2 separate regions of the Homo sapiens genome follow, and region 2 is linked to region 1. The links come from fine-mapping of genetic effects on gene expression. A gene starts in region 1. The other region holds a variant in brackets. All regions are shown on one strand. Distances are from middle to middle. Region 1 holds the start of LINC02478 (long intergenic non-protein coding RNA 2478). Region 2 has its middle 32 kb from the start of ITGB6.

Region 1 (5,382 bases):
AGGTTTATTTTAGTAAAAAAAAAAAAACAAAAAACAAAAACAAAAGATTTTTATCAAATGTTATGATGCAAAAAAAGAAAAAGAAAAAAAAAAAGAAAAGAAAACTTCAATTTTCTGGGTATGCACAAAGACCATGAAGACTTATCCAAGTGCATGACCGGATTTTTGTGGTTTTGTTCATTTTGTGTTTAATTTGTGTTTTTTTTTTCCAGCTGTATGAAATGGGCTTTCTGAAGTTTAAATAGTCCGACTTCACCCATGGTGTTCTGTGCTTGCAGTGCGAGTGTTGCTGTAATTCAGTGTTGCCGTCAGTGTCTCTTTTCTTAGCTTTCTGTCTTTCTTTCAACGTAGTGTGAAGTGTCTTATCCTTTTCTATGAATTCCAATTTGCCTTAACTCTTTTGATGCTGTAGCTGTTTCAGTAAAAGTTAGTTCAAACTAATGATGTAGAATGCTTTGACCAAATGAGCTGGTCTATTATGCCTTGTAAAACAGCAGCATAGGGCTTTTAAAAGGTAGTCAATAAAAGTTGCTGAAATTTTGGCTTTTTTAAATATGTAGTAGGTGTTTTTAATGATTTTTCACATAATGTGTAAGGTAGTGAAATGCAAGAAGGGAAAAATGTTTTGTGTGAAACACATTTTCTGACTGGGGAACTTTTATTAGGGTAAATTGTTTGTAAGGCTGTACGCCAACAGTTTCCTCTGATAGTTTGACTGATTTAGGATATCTGCTGTATGATGCAATGTAAAGTCTTTTTTGCCTTTTTTCAGGAAAAAAAAAAAGCTAACTTGATGTACTAGATTTAGTGTAGGTAGTGTTGGGGTTGGGGATGGGGGTGGGGGAGGGGAGTCACTGAATGTTTTGTCCTTCCTTTATACTAATGATAGTGCTTTAGAATGAGAATTATGCCTGAAATCTGGCAAACCGAAAAATGTTGCTATTGCAACAAAGTGGCAAAAGCTAAAAGTAAGGATTTATCTTCAAACATAAGCTGAGATAACGAATAGAAGCAAAACGATTGGCTACTAGCTCTCTCTCTCTCTCTCTATTAGGTAAATTTGAAAAATAAAAATGACTTGGCACTTTTAAAGGTAACTTCACCAAAGACCGAAGAGCCAGTAACCAGTAGCTCCAACTTGTCTCAGCATCACATCTTCTGTGCTCTTTATTTTTGCCGGACCAGTTTGCGGTTAGGAGAATGTGCCTTTTTTGTACCTTTGCATTTAGGTTTTATAATTTTAATTGATGTATGGACACACACAAACAAAAAAGCATGAAGGAAGATTTGGATCCAAGCAGTGCCACACTTTACATCATCACTACAAGTGTTCAAGTGTAAAGAAAACCAATTTTGAAACTATGAAATTCCTGATTCATAAATACACAGTTATTTCTACTTTAGTACATATAAGATAATTCACTGTTATTAAAGCTCTTTTATTAAGGCAATTGCATATGTTTTAAAAGCAATGGTAAATTAAGTTGTCTTCCAAAACTGTGTACTTGTCTGGTCAGCTGTGTATGATCAGTTATCTACCTCAGAGTCTATTTTCTTTTGTGCTGGGACAGGTTGCTGGCCCTCCCTGTTTCCACAGACCAAATCCTCCTAGCTCAGGAGCTAGGGCTAAGCAGTTATTTCTTTCAAGTATTTTTTAGTTCTTAAATTTTATGCTTGTATTTGATGATAGATGTCAGTGACATTTCATAGTTTCAAAAGTCCTTGCTGCTCTGAGAAGTGTAGATTCTAGTGAAAATTACATAGTCATAAGAGAAATGTGTTTTTGTTTTTGTTTTTGTTTCATTTTTTTAAAGTTGTGGTATTATTGGTTCTATGCTCCCTGGAATATTACTGCTTTGTGAAAGTCCAGACTGAACGCAGCACCCTCTGTGTACCTAGTACAGTTATAAACCTGGGTCTCTCACTACTTGATATTTTTGCATTAGTTAAGACAGAAATTTGATAGCTCGGTTAGAGGGGAGGGGAAATCTGCTGCTAGAAATGTCTGAACTAAGTGCCATACTCGTCTGGGTAAGATTTGGGAAACATAACCTCTGTACATAAAAAAAAAAAAATCAGTTAAACATCACATAGTAGACAGCCATTAAATTATAAAAAAATTAATTTATGAAGAAAGACCTTTTGTACAGATTGAAAAAAAAAGATTTTCATAGAGATATCTATATGATCAAGAGAGTTAATTTTTTATTTTTGTTTTACTAGTGCCACAGACTTGCCAGTGGTAACTTATTTGTCCGGTTCAAGATAACTCTGTAGTTTTCTTTCCTAGGACTTGTTGTTAAACGCCAAAAGACATTTTTGAACTGTACATTTGATCAGATTGTTAGCTTTTCTGTTTTATTTCTTTTGAGAACCTTTGAATAAAAAACATCTGAAATTTTATTTTTCCTGTCAATTTTTTTTAAGTCGATTAAGTGTATATCAGAATTTCATTTCATTTCTGATCTCTTTCTTCAGCTCAGTAGATTGGTTTGAAAGTGAGTTGAAAGTTATGTCAGATTCAATATATCCTCAAAATACATTTCCTTGAAAACAATTGGAAAAACCTTTCCACCCCACTTTTGCTGGTTATTTAAATCTGTGTAATGACCAGAGACGTCAACCCTCAGCTCAGCACGTCAACCGTCAGCTCAGCACGTCAACGGTCGGCTCAGCAAATATCCAGCCCAAAATACACCACTAGTGGTCTGTTCTTAAAGACCAAAAAACCAGGCCCTTTTTCTTCCTCCTTTCTTGCTGCTACGCCTCAACTATTTCATTGCTTGTCAATGCTCAGCAAGGAAGACAGCCTAACAGCAGCCCTCCCACCTGTGGTAAGGAAGCATGTGGGCGAGAACCTCGGGATAATCTTATCTATGCGTTTATGACCAAGGTCCTCTTTCAGAGCTACCTGTTCAGCTGTTCCCGACTGGAGGCTCCCGTGCAGCATTCACGGAGGAGCGAGAACTCCTCTTTCCCTCACTTGACTGCTTTATAGGAGGCACTTAATATGCAAAATAGGCTCCTTCTGCCCAAAGTGGAGTAAACGTTTTAGTGTGGTGGTTCAGTATTTATTTCCTGGTGTCCAGTGGCTCTGTCATGGTGATAAAAAGAGTGGGCAAGGAAAAGATGCAGTCCGCTCCATTTCTGGCTGCGTCCCCTGCCATGTGGATGGTGTGCGGGGTGAGTTAGATAAGGGAGGGGTCAGAGCACTTAACTTGCCGGAGCCAAGAAATCGCTGGTACTTGATGGCTGTTTCAGAGAAGGAAACAACATTCCTCTGATGCTAACTGGTGCTTCTGAGAGCAAAATGTCAGGGAGGAGAGAAGCATGGCCTCTCGAGACAAACCCAGGCTGCTAAGAATGTAAGCTCTGGTCTCACTTTGCGTTCCAGCCAAACACCTAAGTGCTCCTTTCTATGACCAAAGGTAAGAAAGAAATGCAATTCAGGCTCCTGGGCACCTTCGTTTTTGTTCACCCTATTTTTGTTGTAGCTTCTCGCCGCTGAAGTCCGCGGCCCTCTATCTGGCTGTGTTATGTACTGAAACCGGTAAACATACTCAGGAGCACCAATCCACGGAAAAGGGAGGATCAAGCCAGCGATGGTGGTTCACAGTTACCGCTCCCATATAACTAGAGGGGTTGTGGCATGTTTGGGGATAAACCCCACCTAGCTGAAAGCTCTGAGACTGAAGTGGAATTCTGGGGTTGGAGGAGAGGAAAGAGGGTGTGGCCGTTGCTCTGTGGTCTACGTATTTTCCCCTCTATAGTGGCTGGAATGAGGAAAGCCAGGGAGTGGAGGCGGGAGTCCCGTTTTTCACCCCACTGCCACACCCTTCATGGCCAGTGGCTCTAGGTTTATCCGCTGGAGCTTAAATCCCACAAATACTGATTTAAAATTCACTAGGAGAAAGGCAGTGCCTCCCAGCCTGAGCCGGGGCTCAATGAATGTTAAGATATGACTGATTATATCCTCATTCCATTAGGGTAGCCAAAAAGGAAAAGAGCCAGCGCCATTGGGACAAAGGTCACCGACCTCTCAATCGCCCTGCCCCTTCCACAAAAAGCCTGAGATGTCAAGTAGGTGGGGGAGGGAGGAGAGCCGGGAGCTCAGGATTTGAGGAAGGCCAGGCAGTCTCTGCCCCTCGAATAGCAACGCGATGAGCTCAGCCCCCTCAGTCCAGGCCGAGAGCCAGATGGGGGTCACGTGGCCGCGGGGCCCCCCGGGCGCAGGGTCCTCGGCACAGCTGACGGGTGCGCGCCGAGCTCCGCCGGGCGAAGGAATTCCAGCCCCGCAAAATGGCTCCAGAGTGTCTCCCGTGACTCGCTCGGTGGCTGCGGAAGGCAAGAGGGTGTGTGCGCTTGAGCCGCTAGAGGGAGGGTGTTTTGTTCCTCAGCCGTCAGACGCGAGCTCTGCAGGCCGAAAACCCAGACCCGCTGCAGCCGACATCGGGAAGCCCCTGGGCGGAGGTTTAGCCTGTCGGGGCACACAGGCCTGGGTCACAGGGGTCTTGAATTTGGGGTTCCTCGTAAGACTGGAGCGCAGGCCGTCGCCTGTGCTGGCAGCGCCCTCATTGTGAGCGTTGTTGGTCAGACTGGGGAGTGACTGAAATGTGACTTTGAAGGTTCAGGGCAGCTGGGGGCGGCTAGGGAGGAAACCGCGCGCCTTGCCAGACCACGTGACTCGGCGCGAGAAAGCGATGGCAGGTCTCTGGGCTGCTCAGAATTGAAAACGTGGCTTTGAATTAAAGAATTCGGTTGTTTTATGCGACTCTGAGAGACTTAAGATTTGATGTAGGCTATTCCAGTGCTCACACAGGACCCAGACCATAAACCAGACTGCAGGGATTTCCTATCCTCTAGTATCCTTGAAGCCACCTGCCCTACTTGAACACCTCCAGGGACCAGGCACTGCCTGCCTCACAGGGCATCAGGTAGCTTTAGGGAACAGCTCTCAAACTTGTTTGCAGAGGAGTCCAAATTGTGGCTTTGAAATTCCCACTTACCGGCCTTAGTGCTGCCAACCGGGATGCCACAGAGTCAGTCAGTCATACTTCAAGTGTGGAAACGTGACTCCATGGCTCTGCTCTTCTCTGGGTTGAGCATTCCTTCCAGCTTTAACTCTTCCTCGTCAGCCCTGGTCACTCCACATCATCAACTCACCTTCCAGATGTACCACAGTTGACTCAGGATAAAACCCAAAACCGGAGGAAGAACTTGGGACTTCACCTGTCTCCCCTGCCCTGCCGGTTCCTTTTTGACTTCTCAGACATACCACAATTCTTAGAACTTGTAGCCAGTGAAAATCCCTATGTTGCTTTATTTTTTAAATGACAGTAGTTACGCTAAAGACATGCAAGATAATATGAAGTCATTTTAAAA
Region 2 (5,382 bases), 39 kb after region 1:
CTGACAGGGACAGAAAGCATAATATAAAAGGACTTCACAACGTTAGTGGAAAATGGAATTAAAAGATAAAAACAGAAAATATAAACTTTGTTTTTCAACATAAGCTTCTGGCTCACACCTGTAATCCCAGCACTTTGGGAGGCTAAGGCAGGTGGATCACTTGAGCCCAGGAGTTTGAGACCAGCCTGGGCAACTTGGCAAAACCCTATCTCTACAAAAAATAAAAATAAAATAGCTGGGCATGGTGGTGTGTGCCTATAGTCCCAGCCACTTGGGAGGCTGAGGTGGGAGGATCACTTGAGCCTGGGAGGCAGAGGTTACAGTGGGCAGAGATCATGCCACTGCACTCCAACCTGGGTGACAGAGTGAGACCTTGCCTCAAACAAAACAAAACAAAACAAACGAAAACATAAGCTCCATCAAGTTCAAGACACTTTTATAAGTGATGATACCAGCCATTTAATTCATACCTAAGGAACTGAGAGTCCTGGGAACTTAAACATGCCAATGTAGTCATTTTTACGTTTAATACTTCAGTTACTACTAAAGAAAAATGAGTGCCCTTTAAAAAATATTTTTAAAGTCAGGAAACAAAAAGAAGTCAGAAAGAGCCAAAATCAGGACCATACGGTGGATGCCTAATGATTTCCTACTGAAACTCTCACAACATTGCCCTTGTTTGATGAGAGGAAAGAGCAGGAGCATTGTCATAATAGAGAGAGGTTCTTTGGTGAAGCTTTCCCGGGCATTTTTCTACTAAAGCTTTGGTTAACTTTCTCAAAACACTCTCATACTAAGGAGACCTTGCCGTCCTTTGGCCCTCCAGAAACTCAACAAGCAAAATGCCTTGAGCATCCCAAAGACTGTTGCCATGACCTTTGCTTTTGACTGGTCTGCTTGTGCTTTGACTGGGCCACATCCACCTCTTGGTAGCCATTGCTATGATTGTGTTGTGTCTTTAGGATCATATTGGTAAAGCCGTGTTTCATCTCCCATTACATTCCAAAAAGAGATGCTTCAGGATCTTGGTCCCATTTGTTTTAACATTTTCATTGAAAGCTCTGCTCTTGTCTGCAGCTGATCTGGGTACAACGGTTTTGGTGCCCATCAGGTGGAAAGTTTGTTCAACTTTAATTTTTCAGTCAGAATTGTGTAAGCTGAACCAGTTGAGATGTCTGTGGTGTTGCTATTGTTTGTGCTGTTGATCATTGGTCATCTTCAATTAGGGCATGAACAACATTTTTTTCCTTACAAATTGATGTGGATGGTCTGCTGCCATGGGCTTCATCTTCAACATTATCTCAACCCTTCCTAAAATGAGTTATCCATTTGTAAACTGCTGATTTCTTTGGTGCATTGTCTCCATAAACTTTTCATAAATCATTAATGATTTCACCATTCTTCCACTCAAACTTCGCCATAAATTTCATGTTCGTTCTTGCTTCAATTTTAGCAGAATTCTTGATGCTCTGATATGTGCTCTCTTTGAATTTATGTCTTATCCTTCTTCTTTTTTTTTGACAGACCCTTGCTCTGTCACCCAGGCTGGAATGCAGTGATGTGATGTTGGCTGACAACCTCTGCCTTCCAGGCTCAGTGATCCTCCCACCTCAGTCTCCCGAGTACCTGGAACTAGAGGCGCACACCACCATGCCCAGCTAATTTTTGTATTTTTTGTAGAGATAAGGTTTCACAATGTTGCCCAGGCTGGTCTTGAACTCCTGAGCTCAAGTGAGCCACTCACCTCAGCCTCCCAAAGTTCTGGGATTACAGGTGTGAATCACCTTGCCCAGCATATGTCTTATCCTTCCTAGTCCCTTAAACTAGATCATCTTCAGGTATATTGTAACAAGTTAATATGAGCTTATTTTGGTGCAAAAAAATTGAAATGCATGCAGTTTTTTTTCATAATACGCAATTTTTGTGAACTTTTGAAGACACTTCATAGAAAAGAAATTGCCTCTAAGACTTAAAAACCCCAGAAGCCATGATATTACAAATTATCAAAAAATTAACTCTGCCTATCTCTGCAATGCTCCCATAACCTAGAAAGCTCAGTACTCTTACATCACCTAGGAAAGTCCCAGAGTTTGTGCAGGAAGGGTTGAAATCACTTAAAGTCTGATATTTGTTTTGGAACCATTATCAATAACATAAGTAAGTAGTTTAATTCTTAAGAGCTCTAAAGATGTATTTGCAAAAGGAGAGGCTAGAATGAACAAATGCCGTGTTGAGAGAATGCTAAATTTCATACCTGCATTTTTTTTTCTGCTGTCTGGGTTAGGCCATCTGCACTTTAGAATTGGGAAGAGGACAGACACATTGAGAGCATGACACAGACAGAAATCTTATGTCAACTGCAGATTAAGGAAACTTTCTCCCTCTGGGCCTAACTCGGGTGTCTAGAAGGTACACCTGCTCATAAATAACAAGAGTATTCACCAGTGTGGTGATTTTCTCCACCTGGGTTATATAGGGATTTCAGCTCACTCTGTAAATGATTAGTATATGTCCTTATAGAATAAGTTATATGATGTATGAGAGAAATTCATGAAGAACATTAGCCATTTGTACCATTCCCCTAGCCAGCCAGAGACCAGTGTGGACACAGCATCTTTTGCTCTAAGACTTACCCACCTGGCAGAGTGTTCCAGCTCACCAAGGGCCTTTCTCAGAGGCAAACCTCGGGACAGACAGAAGACATTGACTGTTGTTGTTGTTGTTTTTCTTTTGCCAAATCAATAGCTGCCTACTGACTGTTGTTTTAAAGACTGAGGACTCAGTGACTTTGAAGTCACAGAAAGTAGGAGTCTGGCATTCTTTTTTTTTTTGAGACGGAGTCTTGCTCTGCTGCTCGGGCTGGAGTGCGATGGTGCAATCTTGGCTCACTGCAACCTCCACCACCAGGTTCAAGTGACTCTCCTGCCTCAGCTTCCTGAGTAGCCAGGATTACAGGCGCGGGCCCCCATGCCCAGCTAATTTTTGTATTTTTAGTAGAGATGGGATTTCACTGTGTTGGCCAGGCTGGTCTTGAACTCCTAACCTCGTGATCCGCCCACTTCGGCCTCCCAAAGTGCTGAGATTACAGGCATGAATCACCGCGCCCAGCCGAGTCTGGCATTCTTGGCCTAAGGGAGTGATAGTGTGATTGAGAGTGAGCCATTTGTCTGCTCTGGGCCTTAGTATCTTGTCTATAACAAAGCAGGACTCTTCCAGCTCTA[C/T]AAATGTCAAGAGCCAAAGCCAATGTCTTAAGCACTACCTGTCCAGATTACCACACATCTCACCAGGTGAGCCTTGGTAGGAAGCTGAGGCCAAGTGGGCCAAATGGAACCGCTGGGCAGATTTGATAGGCCCTTTACAATGCTTGTTGAAAGTATTTCATCACAAATCTTTGAAAATCAGAAGACATCACATAAGAAACTAGATTTCTGGCTGCCCGTAAAAAAATCAAAAGATTGGCCACATTGGGCCCAAATTCTGATATGGCAACAGTTAGCTAGAGTTTGGTGGTGGCTGTTCCCTTTGAATGAGGCATGTGTTCTTCAGTTTGCCACAGTCTGCACCACTCCCTATTGCAGGCTGCACCTAGTCTACTTTACAGTATCCTGACTCCTGTAGACTTTTGAAATTCTGATCCTTGCTTTAATATCTCTTCCACACCCAGGTGTATTAACCTCCACTTTCAGTACCTCTTCTAAAAGCAGACTGTCTGCAGAAAGAGAAATTAACATCTTGGCATGAAGTAGGTGAGCAGAACACTATTCGTCAGATAGGAGGATCTTGGAGTCCTGGTGAGGAAGGAGGAGGGCCAAGAGACCAGGGAACACCTTTAGAAGGGCAAAGGGTTACATAAAGTAGCTCTGTCCAATAGAAATATAATACAAGCCACAAATGTGAGCTACATATGCAATTCAACATTTTCTAGTAGCCACATTATGAGGAAGTAAAAAGAAACAGGTGAAATATTTAACTGAACATACCAAAATATTGTCATTTCATTATGTAATTGATTTTCAAAATTATCAGTGAGGTATTTTACATATTTTTACATGAAATCTCTAAAGTTCAATGAGTATTTTATACTTGCAGCACATCTCCATTTGGACTAGCCACATTTCAGGTGCTCATAGCCACATGTTGGTAGTTGCTACCATATCAGACACACGGAGGTAGAAAATTAAGAAATTATTGACCAGCTTACTAGTTTTGCCTAGAGCCCTCACTAGCTACCTTATGAGATTCGGAAGCGAACCACATTTATTGAATGCTCACTATGAATTGTATGTAATAAATATACAATTTATTTCATTTTAGTTTGCATGTCCCACCACAAAAGACAGCTAGAGCAGAGGGTAAATGCCATTGAAATAGGCCTGATAGACTGCACGACTCTGTCTGCTGCTGTAGCATGGCTGTGGTATTTCTTAGCCTCAGTTTTCTTATCTCCAAAACTGGTGATAATTGCATCTACCTTAAGAGGTTATCATGAAGTTCATGAAAATGCTTTATAAACTGTAAATAACTATACAAGTTTAACAAAAGGAAAAATAGCTTTATTTTATTGAATTGCCAAGTTCTGTGCTAGGCACTTTGCACATGTTATCTGTCTTCATCTTTATAATACCTTTATCAAATCATACTATTATCCAGGCTTTAAAGAAGAAGAAACAGCCTTCTAGAAATTCAGCATCTTGTACAAAGTCAACAGGTAGTGAGTGGCAGAGCCAATCACAGCTTTGAAAATAGGGTATTTGATATTCATGGCACCACCCTAGTTAGAGAGAGATGGAGAAAAAGAGAGAGAATATAAATCTTACACTTCATTTTCTGAGACATTTGGGTAAATGTTTTAAAGATGAAGAAACTGGGAGCCAGGAGCAGTGGCTCACACCTGTAATCCCAGCACTTTAGGAGGCCGAGGCAGGCAGGTCATTTGAGGTCAGGAGTTGGAGACCAGCCTGGCCAACATGGTAAAACCCTGTCTCTACTAAAAAAATACAAAAAAATTAGCTAGGCATGGTGGCGTGAGCCTATAATCCCAGCTACTCAGGATGAGGTTACAGTGAGCCGAGATCACACCACTGTACTCCAGCCTGAGCAACCGAGCAAGACTGCATCGCAAAATTAAAAAAAAAAAAAGTGAAAAAGAAAAAAGAAACTGGGGCTTTATAATTATATCTAGGATCACACATGTGGCAAATTAACAGCCCAGGTAAATTAAGAATTGGACAATCTCTAGGGTTCTCATTCTGGATTTAAACCCATTGAACCACTGAGCTGAATAAATCTCTTGATTATTGAGATTATTTTTTAATCCCCCCAAAGAAGAGTTAATCCCTCTGAAATCAAACCTCTTCAGTGGAGGAAATTAATATATAGGAC

What was found. PIP is the estimated chance that this variant, and not a neighbour inherited with it, causes the effect.
Region 2: its variant is the best candidate, but not a certain one, in a credible set for the expression of LINC02478 in sun-exposed skin (GTEx, PIP 0.56).

Annotation. Positions count from the first base shown.
Region 1 is chr2:160,269,172-160,274,553 of GRCh38, reverse strand. LINC02478 (long intergenic non-protein coding RNA 2478) reads left to right here and starts at 2,659. Exons shown (of 2, transcript NR_103775.1): 1 at 2,659-2,834. It overlaps RBMS1 (RNA binding motif single stranded interacting protein 1), which reads left to right. Exons shown (of 14, transcript NM_016836.4): 14 at 1-2,403. RefSeq lists an enhancer at 3,842-4,451.
Region 2 is chr2:160,229,984-160,235,365 of GRCh38, reverse strand. No RefSeq gene overlaps it. Among named protein-coding and RNA genes, the nearest start is that of ITGB6, 32 kb to the right of the region's middle. RefSeq lists an enhancer at 4,739-4,908. The variant C/T (reference allele first, on the strand shown) is at 3,222.